Regions from separate parts of the Homo sapiens genome. Here region 1 is linked to region 2. The links come from fine-mapping of genetic effects on plasma protein levels. Region 2 holds a variant in brackets. A gene starts in the other region. All regions are shown on their forward strands.

The links. PIP is the chance, under the fine-mapping model, that this variant and not a neighbour inherited with it causes the effect. Protein levels are from antibody-based Olink assays in UK Biobank. Linkage for the fine-mapping came from a reference panel and not from the study's own genotypes, which makes the PIPs less certain.
Region 1: BPIFA2 starts here. The variant in region 2 is fine-mapped to the plasma level of the BPIFA2 protein (UK Biobank, PIP above 0.99).

What each region holds. Positions count from the first base shown.
Region 1 is chr20:33,164,865-33,170,250 of GRCh38, forward strand. BPIFA2 (BPI fold containing family A member 2) reads left to right here and starts at 3,295. Exons shown (of 9, transcript NM_080574.4): 1 at 3,295-3,345; 2 at 4,267-4,438. The coding sequence starts at 4,282. RefSeq lists enhancers at 1,433-1,934, 1,935-2,434.
Region 2 is chr1:103,908,384-103,913,769 of GRCh38, forward strand. No RefSeq gene overlaps it. Among named protein-coding and RNA genes, the nearest start is that of AMY1C, 160 kb to the left of the region's middle. The variant G/T (reference allele first, on the strand shown) is at 2,914.

The DNA of each region.
Region 1 (5,386 bases), not on the chromosome of region 2:
GGATGAAGCATTCAGGGAACATTCCATGGGACAGGAGGAAGAAGACTCCAGCCTGCAGTGGGGCAAGGCCCCCTCCATCTGTCAGTCCATAGGAAGTGGCTCTCCATATTCTAAAGGCAGGACTTGAGAGGGGTCTATTAGTGTCCAGATGTGGAATCCGGGACTTAGGGAAATACTTGAGCGCTGAAAGAATAAACTGTGTCACCAGAAGAAAACCCGGCAAAGTCAAAATTACCAAAAGTTGAATTAAAGGTCTTCAGACTGTAACATTGTGACAACTTTATTAATTGCTCTATTTAGCAGTCACAGGAAGGACAGTAACGTGTGAACAGGTTTTGTTGCTTTGATCTTTCTTATTTGCCCAGAATTCCTGAGTAGGCAGTTCAAGTGTGAGAAACCAGGACCTACTAGAAATTGGATGGATGATTCGTACTTGACTGATTTCACAGGCAAAATGGTGACAAGCCTTTCAGCAATTTTACTAGCAAAATAAGGCAATTATCTTTGATGGGTGCAATGGGAGTGCACACCTGTGTGTTTGTTATCTGGAGAAGGGGTGGGGGCTGCTTCTGTCCACAGGAGAAGGAAGGTCAGTGGGCAGTCTGGTCAGCTGAGCACCCCCCAGCCTGGCTGGCCCCTCATGCAACCCCAGCCCTGTCACTCGCTTTCTCTGGTCTCAGTAGGCTGCATGACCTCTTAGGCTGTTTCTAGCCAGGGCACTGAGCCAGGTATGGAAAAAGATACCAGCTTGGAGGTTAAGGCTGGGCCAGTGGGATCAGGAAGCTGCCCCAGCTGGGGATTAGCAGTCACGCAGCAGGTAGGATGTCCTAGTCTTGGCACAGCTAATCTTTAATGCCTCACTGGGAATTTTCAATAAGAAATTCATCTCGCGACCCTCATGGCTGGGGCCTTTGTCCCTAAGAGGCAAACATCTTCTATGTGAGAAGACTTTGTGTAACCTGGAGAGGGAAGAAGAGGAGGAGGAGGAGCACACAGGAGGAGTTGTCACTGTTTCTTTTTCCGGAATGACTCAGACCAGCCAGCCTGAACCTCGGGTGACCTCTGAGGATCCCAACCTCCCCACCCACCAAGGACCCTATATTATATATTATATAATATTAATCTTATGACAGATGCTCCTCATTTTATTTTATTTTTGTTTGTTTGTTTGAGACGGAGTTTCGCTCTTTTGCCCAGGCTATAGTGAAGTGGCACAATCTTGGCTCACTGCAACATCCACCCCCTGGGTTCAAGTAATTCTTCTGCTTCAGCCTCCAGAGTAGCTGGGATTACAGATGCCTGCCCCCACACCCGGCTAGATTTTGTATTTTTAGTAGAGACAGGGTTTCACCATGTTGGCCAGGCTGGTCTCGAACTCCTGACCTCAGGTGATCTGCCCGCCTCGGCCTCCCAAAGTGCTGGGATTACAGGTGTGAACCACCATGCCTGGCCAGATGGTCCTCATTTTATAATGGGTTGTGTCCCAGTAAACCCATAGTAAAGTTGAAATATTGAAGTCAAACCATCGTAAGCCGGGACCATATGCGCACATATTCATCAGCATCTTCTTCGCCATCTTTGCTGTTGCCGTGCATCATGGGCCTACCCTATGCTAAGCCTTCATGGGTATTACACTAATTTGACCTCACAGCATGCCCTTGAGGTGAGCACTGTTCTTAGTCCCATTTCACAGATAAAGAGCCTGAGGCTCAGCAAGGTGCGGTCTCTGGCCCAGGTCACATGGCCAGCAACCAGCAGAGAGAGAGTATTCATGCCCAGGACAGCCCAAGCCCAGTGCCAGGCTCTGAGCACTGCCCTCAAAGCCCCTCACCATCGTTTTGATTTCCTAGGTCCTTGCCTGTCCACCATGCCTCTGAGATCCAGGAACAGCGTGTTTACCCATTTTACAGATGAGGCAACTGAGGCCTGGGCCAACACCAGGTCTCGAGGTCACTGCATCATGCTCAGCACCCTGGGCTATGTTCCTGGGCTGGGACAAACTGCCTTCACAAGATTTCAGCACAGCCCTTGGCTCTGTGCTTCACAACTGGGGGAAGAGCGGGGCTCAGACGTTTGGAGAACCCGGTGTCAGGCAGCCAGGGAAGGAGGTGTGACAACCATTCAAGACCACAGGCAAGACTGCAGCAGGGGTCTAATGGTCTGGGCTCTTGGGGCCTGGCCATCACCTTCCTGCAGCCGCCCAGCTCTGTGCTGTAACAGTGGAGCCATGGTCAGTGTAGGAACAGCCAGCTCCTGGAGCCACTGGTCTTGTCCCACCGTTTGCTTGGTTGCATCATTTTGAGGACAGGCCCCCCAGGTCCTTGCTGAATTGCAGGTGGGTGAGCAGAAGGGCAGAGACCTATGGTGACCCTGAGCTCTGTGCCAGTCCTTCCCAGCCTGAGGCCAAGTGGGCACCCACCCGAGTTTCCTGTGCTGTTCCGGGTTGACACAGGCCCAATGCAGCAGGCGTTACAACCAACCCAAACATCAGTGGCCGAAGCAAAAACAGGATACTCAGGCCCAGGGACTCTCCCTCTCTGCTAACTGACCTCAGCCTGATATGGGTGGAAGGGTCTTCCCTGGTGGCCCAAATGCCTGGTTCCTGTCCTTGCAAGTATGGACAAGCCACCTCCCTCTCTGAACTTCAGCTTTCTCAACTGGAAAATGGAGCTCTGAAAACCTGCCTTACAGAGTTTTCATAAAGACTAACAGAAAAGTGCATCTAAAGTGCCCTTTAGGGACACCAAGCCCAGTGTCAGCACAAGCAGCTGCCAGGCATCTGCTGCACCTGCCGGGTGCAGACCCCTGGGGGCAGGACCCCTGGGAGGCTGTCTGACTCCTTGTGGGCCACAATTCTAGACCCATCTCGGTCCCTGTCTTGCTGAATGACCCCAGGCTGGTGGCTTCCCCTCTCTGAGCCTCAGTTTCCAAATGATGACGGAGTTAGACCGGATGGTCATTATGGGTCCTCCTGCCAGGACATTCTCCAATTCATTCATTCTCAGTCTTCTCCCAGTCCTCACCCACAAGGACCAAGGACCACCCCCTCGGTAGCTGCAGGCTCCATGAGGACCTGGTCTTAGTCTTGGCGGAAAGCCCTCTCCATAGCCATCCGTTTCAATTCAAGCATCCTGGGTGACCTTTGAGTTGGAAATCTCTCTCTCTGCTCATCCTGGAGAGGGGTTATTTTCCTTGGAGTGTCCTTGGATGATCCCAGAACCAAGGCTTGCTTCTGTGGGCAGCCTTCCATCCCATCTCCACCATATAATAGCCGCCACCATTCAGCAGAATCCCAGCAGACTGTGCAGTGGGGCAAGGATTTCATGAGCATCCTCCTCTAAACGCGTGAGTGGCGTGCTCCCCCCAGTGGCACCACACGTGGTGGTCTTTGGAAGGCTTTGGGGGCAAGAGGCAGAGGGGTGGGATTGCTTGGGTTAGCTAATATTTTGAATACAGCAGAGATAATCAATATATCTCTAAATGTGCTCTAAATGGCAAGTTCGTGATGAGTACTCACTAAAGATTCCATTTCCCTCTGGGCAATTCTTACTCCTGTTCTTCCCATGACTGTCCAGGTGTCAAGACAAATGGCAAATCAGAGTAAATTTAGAGATCTATAGATTATATTAAAATAAGTGTCAAACTAATGAACAATGCAGGGTCATGAGGTGGTCTCCATTGATTTGTTCATACTTATATTCAACAAAGATTTATTCGTTTACTGTACTGTACTAGGTGCAGGCTTTTTACTGGCGCCTGAGGATTCGACAGTGAAATAAGTCACAGTCCTTCCTCTAAGGAGTTCACAGCCTGGTAGGAAAGGTGGTCAAATCATCAGGGAAGTGTTATCCAAGACCTTGATCAGGATAATGAAGGCAGCAAGGTGGGACTCCTCCAACCTAGAATCTGGGAAGGGGCCTACAGTAGGCTTCACAGAGGGCATGATGTAGGAATTGACCTAAGTGGAAAAGTAAAGAAGAAGAAAAATATTTTAGGCAGAGAAGACAGCGTATGAAAAGGAACTTTGTGTCAAGAGTATGGGCTTGGAGTCAAGTCTGACTTTTCAAATCCCAGCTCCTCTGCTCACTGACTGTGTGTCTCCGGGCAAGTTGCTGTAGCTTTCTGACCTTGGCTGCCCATTTGTAAAATAGGAAATAACCACATCTATCTTAATGGAATGCTAAATGTTAAGAGTGATGGGAACTCACTGAAGAGTCCATTTCCCTCTGGGCAATTCTCACTCCTGTTCTTCCCATGACTGTCCAGGTGTCAAGACAAAAGATGCTTCAGCTTTGGAAACTTGTTCTCCTGTGCGGCGTGCTCACTGGGACCTCAGAGTCTCTTCTTGACAATCTTGGCAATGACCTAAGCAATGTCGTGGATAAGCTGGAACCTGTTCTTCACGAGGGACTTGAGACAGTTGACAATACTCTTAAAGGTAAATCAACAAGGGTGATGAACAGTGTCACCTAAATTAGCCTCCTAAACACTATGCCTGCATTACCAGAGGCTGCCACCAGGGGCTACTCTTTATGGGCGGTTTACTGAGAAAAGTGGCTATTCAATTCCTGACTCATTCGTTTATCTTTCTAGAAACAAGCAATGCCACAATGAATAGCCTTTTACATATTATATCCTGATAAACGTGCATAAGATAAATTCCTACAAGTGGGATTTCAAAAGTTCAAAAACTATGCTGTTGACAAATAATCTCCTATGTTAACACTTTCTCCAACAGTCTACGAAAGTGCCTTTTTTCCCACTCCTTTTCCAGCACTGGGTATGGACAACTTTAAATATTCTGCCTGTCTCACAGATGAAAAGCTATAACTTATTTCACTTTGCATTCCTCTAATTATGAAGGAGCCCTCTTCTTTTTTCATATATTTACTATGTACTTACATATTTTAACTTGAGGATTTTGTCTATATTCTTAGCATATTTTTCTTTTGGGTTGTTTAATATTCTTTTATGGACTTGTGTTAATTCAGTGAAAATTAAGGAAATTATCCCTACCTAGCCTTGGTATCTGTAAAGCTACCTACCTTTATATTTATTTATACCTCCTTTTTATGCTAACCTATTAAAATAACTTGGCTTTCTTTTTGTTTTATGGAAACATTAGCAGCACATCAAAAACAGTTTTTGTAGGAGGAGGTAACTTCTGCAAATGGCTGCCTTTCAAACCTTGTCAAGGGCTTAGGTAACTTTCAAAGATGCAGAAAGGACTCACACTCTAATTTCACAGCTGAGAAAACTGAGGCCCAGAGACAGAAATGTCTAAACCAAAGTCACCTCGTGAATTATACGATTAGACGTAGTTATATCACCAATTTTATTTAAAGTGTCATTCTCTGAATCATTATAACTAGGTAGATATTGTCCA
Region 2 (5,386 bases):
GCTGAACCCGTGACTTGGGACTTCTGGCCTCCAGAACCTTGAGAAAATAAATTTCTGTTGTTTACCACCTAGTCTGTGGTATTCTGTAATGGCAGCCTGAGGAGACTAATATAAGGCTTTTATTTTAAATTTACTTGAAAAATCCATTTACGCGGTTCTTGAAGTGCCAAAACGTTTTACTACATTAGTCTACTTTGGTCCTGGGAGAAGGCGCCTGAAAAAACTTACAGAAGATAATATCTGCAGTTCAACATTGTGAAAACCAAGACTCAGAGAATTTATACGAACCCAGGTCTTATGTAGCAATCTCAAGGTCTTTTATTACTGTAGACATGTGGCTTTCTCATCCTCTTTCTGTCCTATATAAATGTCTCCTCATAATTTACCTATCTTGTTTTGTACTTTTGGGTGTCTCTGTATAACTATCTCCCTCCTAGGTTAATATTAACTTGCTGGGTTAGGATTTTACACTCAAAGTAGTTTTGTCCTAGAACTCTGAAGTTCCACTTTCTTAGATCAGAGAGCATTTGATCAGACATTTGGCCTTCTTTTGAAAGAAATAAAGAAGGGAGCCAGGTGAAGGTGTGGACAAATGGATTCTAAACTCAAGCAACAGGGACTTCCTTAGACAAGTGGTTTCCAAACTTCTCTGACCCTAACAATCCCCTGGGAGCTTAAAAAAATTCTGATACCACGGTTGAATGCCCGACCAAATGCATCTAAAACTCTAGGGAGTAGAAATCAAGCATCAATATTTTAATGTCTCTGCAGGTGTTTCCAATACTCAGCCAAGGTTGAGAATCACCTTGGCTGTGTTAGATATTAATTACTTGGTTTGTTCCAGAAATTAAAAGATGTTCAATGTGGATAAAGAGTGAAAGGGAAAGAAGGACCAATAAAAGAGATATTATAGGTCAAAATAAGTTCTTTGATTCCTTGGGATTTTATTTTGGATGTAAAGCCATCAGGGGTTTTGAGCAGAAGGCATTATGTGATCTTATTTGCACAAGATAATTTTGCCTGCATAGTAAGGAATTGACTACAGGTGGATGAGGAGAATAGACACCAGTAAACACATATGGATGCTATTAGGAAAAAAAAAATCCTTAATTGATAACAATAAAGGTAGAAGTCATGTTTAAATGAAATATAATATTAAGCTGATTTTTTTGTTAGATTGCTTGTGTTTTCTTACAAGATGTTTTTAGAATAATATTTTAGTTGTTGGTGTATTCGTTTGCCAGGGCTACCATAATAAAATACCACAGAGTTGGTGGCTAAAATAACAGAAATTTATTTTCTCACAGTTCTAGAGGCCAGAAGTCCAAGATCCAGTTGTGGGCGGGTTTGATTTTTCTGAACCCTCTCTCCTTGTCTCACAGATGGCTGCCTTCTCACTGTGTCCTCACATTGCCTTTATTTTGTGAGGGACCATCCCTGACGTCTTTTTTTGCATCCTAATCTTCTGTTTTTAGAAGAACACCAGTCGGATTCAATTAGGGTCTACTGTTATGGCTTCATTTTAATTTAATAACTTATTCAAAACCACATTTTCAAATACAGTCACATTCTAGAGTACTGGGCATTAGGACTTCAACACATGAATTTTTGGGAAAACACAATTAACATTAACATTTGATGTTCTGAGATTTCACCATTGCTTCACATGTTTTCTAAACTATAAACTCATTCCATTTTGTTAATGGAAGTGTTATTTTTTACTATATTATTATTATTTTTTACTCTATTCCATGTATTCCTCTTCTCCTTCTGGAACTCATTTTAGAGAGATATTGGAACCTATGGATCTGTACTTCATTTCTCATCACTTATACTTTCCCTCTCATTTGCATTTATCTCTGTAGTCTGAGATAATCCCTTGGTAGATTTCTAGCCCAGTAATTTACACTTCAACCATGCCCATTAGGCTATTTAGACTATTGTTTCCAGCATAGGTGATCAACTTTTAAATGCCAAGACTTCTAATAAATTTTTCATAGCTGCAATATCCCCTTAGCTGTTTCTGAATGTATCAGTAATGCTTTATCTAAACTCTTCTGCTTGCTTCATTAACTTTGCTTCATTCTTCAGAACCTAAAATGCCTTTACCTTTGCAACAGTCTGCTTCAGAATCTGTTTTGCAATGCTTTTTTTTCTCTTGCTTTTCTTTGGATCTGATCCTACTTACTTTATATCTTTCAGGTATTGCTCATAACATTTGGGCTATAATGGCACTTTAAATTTTTTTCTTGTCTATTATGGATTTATTCTCCATTGTGTGTGTATATGTTTGGTATAGAAAATACATGCATGAATATATATGAAATATATATATATATCCTCTCTTATTTATATATTTTATAAAATATATGAAATCTTTTTTCTTCTTTCATGTAATCTTGGATGCATAGGCATTTTGCAGCATTTGTACACTTTGTCATCTTGAGTCAATCTATTATTTTGGAAAATCTTTGCATCCTAATCTTCTGTTCTCAGAATATTTATTTAATATTTTGTACTTATTGTTAATTTATGTTTGTTCCATAATGAGCTCTTTATTTATAGAAACTACCTCACTACTTTTCTTATTAAACCCTGCCAATTTTTATTTGAATACTATTTGTATTTGTTTTTTTAACTTTATTTTCAGTACTTACTTTTAGAGATAATATCAAGGTTTTGTTCTATCAATGGGAATTTTCTATCCACAAATGTTTTGGCATTATTTAGTAATACATTCACTACCCCCTTCCATACTGAAGGTAATATCTTCCTAGAAAAGTACAATAGGAGCTTTGGGGTATGCCAGGCAAAATGTAAACTAATACTGTTAAAACAAGAATAAATTTATTTTAATCATTTTTAATACTGATTAACAAGCAATATAATATTAAATACTATTAGACAATAAGT[G/T]TGGCAATGATATTTGTAAAATATAGATTCAGTAATTTTATTAATTTTACAGAATATACAGTAGAAACTGCAAGAATGGAACAGGTTACATGCATATTTTACAGGAAGAACACATGAAATGTAGTCTACTTTTATGAATAAAGCTTCTTATATCCGTTAAATATAAACTTGCCAAGGAAGTGAAAAGAAATAAGAATATTCTTAACCTTAAGTCTCAGTACAAATCTTATGAGAGACTTGAAAATATCTTCTGTTACTCACCAAGTGATAATTTGGAAAGAGACAGTAAACAATGACAGACTATGACAAGGAACTTGAAAATGAGAGTTTTAGTTCTGGCTATGCTTGTTACTAATTTGAGGAATTGAACGTTATTTTCTAAACCTGTTTGGTCTCTCTCTCTCTCTCTCTCCCTGTGTGTGTGTAACACTTAATCTAAGGTTCTCTACCAACTGGTTCCATCTCTAAGGTAAATAAACTCAGTTTTTTTGTTTTTTGTTTTTCTTTTCTCAAGGAGCCTGTAGTCTTTAGGAGAGTTAGAGATGTAAACCAATATCTCTGGGTGCTAGGACTATTCTCTTTCCTTTGCTAAGACTTATCTACAAATATTCTTTATGGATATAGAGAGGAAGAGTTTAAAATCCCATTGAACCAAGTACCTCTCCAGCTGTTCCTTCACCAGTAGGTTAGGTACATACTATCCCTTGATGTCTGCCAGCCACCCATAGATACTCCCTGCGTCCCATACTTTACAGTGATGGTAGTGCTACTGCTACTATCTGATTTTACAAGGAGTAGAGGGATTCTCTTACTCTTTCAAACATTGCTGGTTTTTAAATATGTATATATTTATTATATATATAATATATATGATAATATATGATCATCTTAGTCTGTTTTGTGTTGCTATAACAATACCTGAGACTAAGTAATTTATAAATAAAAGATATTTATTTTTTATAGTTCTGAAGACTGGGAATTACAAGATTGAGGAATCTATATGTGGCAAGATGTTGCATCATCTCATGGTGGAAGGCGGAAGGGCAAGAGAGCTCAAGCAAGGGCAAGACGGGGCCAAACTCACTTTTATAGAAAACTCACTGTCATGATACTAAACCATTCCCAACATAATGACATTAATCCATTCATGAAGGCAGAGCCCTGACGACCTAATCACCTCTTATTTGGCCCCAGTTCCCATCACTGTTGCACTGGAACTTTAGGAGACACATTCAAACCACAACAGAAGTATCTAACATAGTCAAACTCATAGAAATATAAAGTAAAATGGTGGTTGCCATTTCCCTATCATTGCTTCCTAATTTCTCTAATCCTTCCATTATCTTCTAGTCTAGTATAGACACCAGACTCAGACCTGGCCAAACATAGTACTTCACTCTCCTTCCCGTAAGAGATGGCTATGTATGGTTTGCCTGCCAAACATGCCTCTGTTCTAACTCCTGGAGCCCATTAATATATTGTTCAATGTGGCAAAGGGGAAATAAGGTAACAGATGGAATTAAGCTTGCTAATACCTTAATCTTAAAATAGGGAGATTATCCTGGATTTTCCAGGTGGGCCCAGGTAATTGCAAGGGGCTGGGGGGATGAGGAAATGAAATTGTTAAACAGGTATAGAGTTTCCATTTTGCAAGATGAAAAGTTCTGAATATCTATAGCACAATAATGTGAATATACTTTACATTACTGATCTAATATTGTTCTAAACTCTCTTTTTCTAAAAATAATATGACCCTGATACTTTTGAAGATTTAAGTTGTTATTTATTAAAGGAATTTGAAATTTCGATGGTTGTTTAAAGACTACACAGAGTGGATATGAGGGGTGGTAGGACATTGGGTATGATGTCTCTGAGACAGCTACTTTGTCGTAATGTGAAAGTATAGAACCTCGCTGCCTAGGCCTGGTGGTCAAGGACATTGAAAGAAACTGAGTTTCCTACCGTCTTATACTATTTTATGTAACATTTTTTCCTTTCCCATATACTGAAAACTCTTGGGAAAAACAAAACCAACAAACTAAAAAATACCTCAATGTCTTTTCACGTTATTCCAGAGGAAAAGAGTATTATTTCAGTCCACTGGTTTATCAGGAAAGGCACTGTGTTTGTGTGTGTGTGTGTGTGTGTGTGTGTGCATTTGCATGCATACATGTGTACATGCTCTGAACTATAATGTTAAGAGTGAAGAGAATTATCAAGAGGACAAGTAAGATAAGTTATTTGGCTGATATTGATACTGATTTTACACTGATGTATAAAATAATCAAACATATCTACTCAAGGGTGGGCAAAACTCCTTTCCAAACATTTCATTTCATTTTCTTTCATTGAAAAATATATATTCCTCTGATTAATATGACATTGGCTTTATTTCTTATGAACTAATATTCTGGCCTTATACTGTTAATTTATTCTTTTTTTCTCTGGCTTATTTTAGAAAACATTCTTGTGA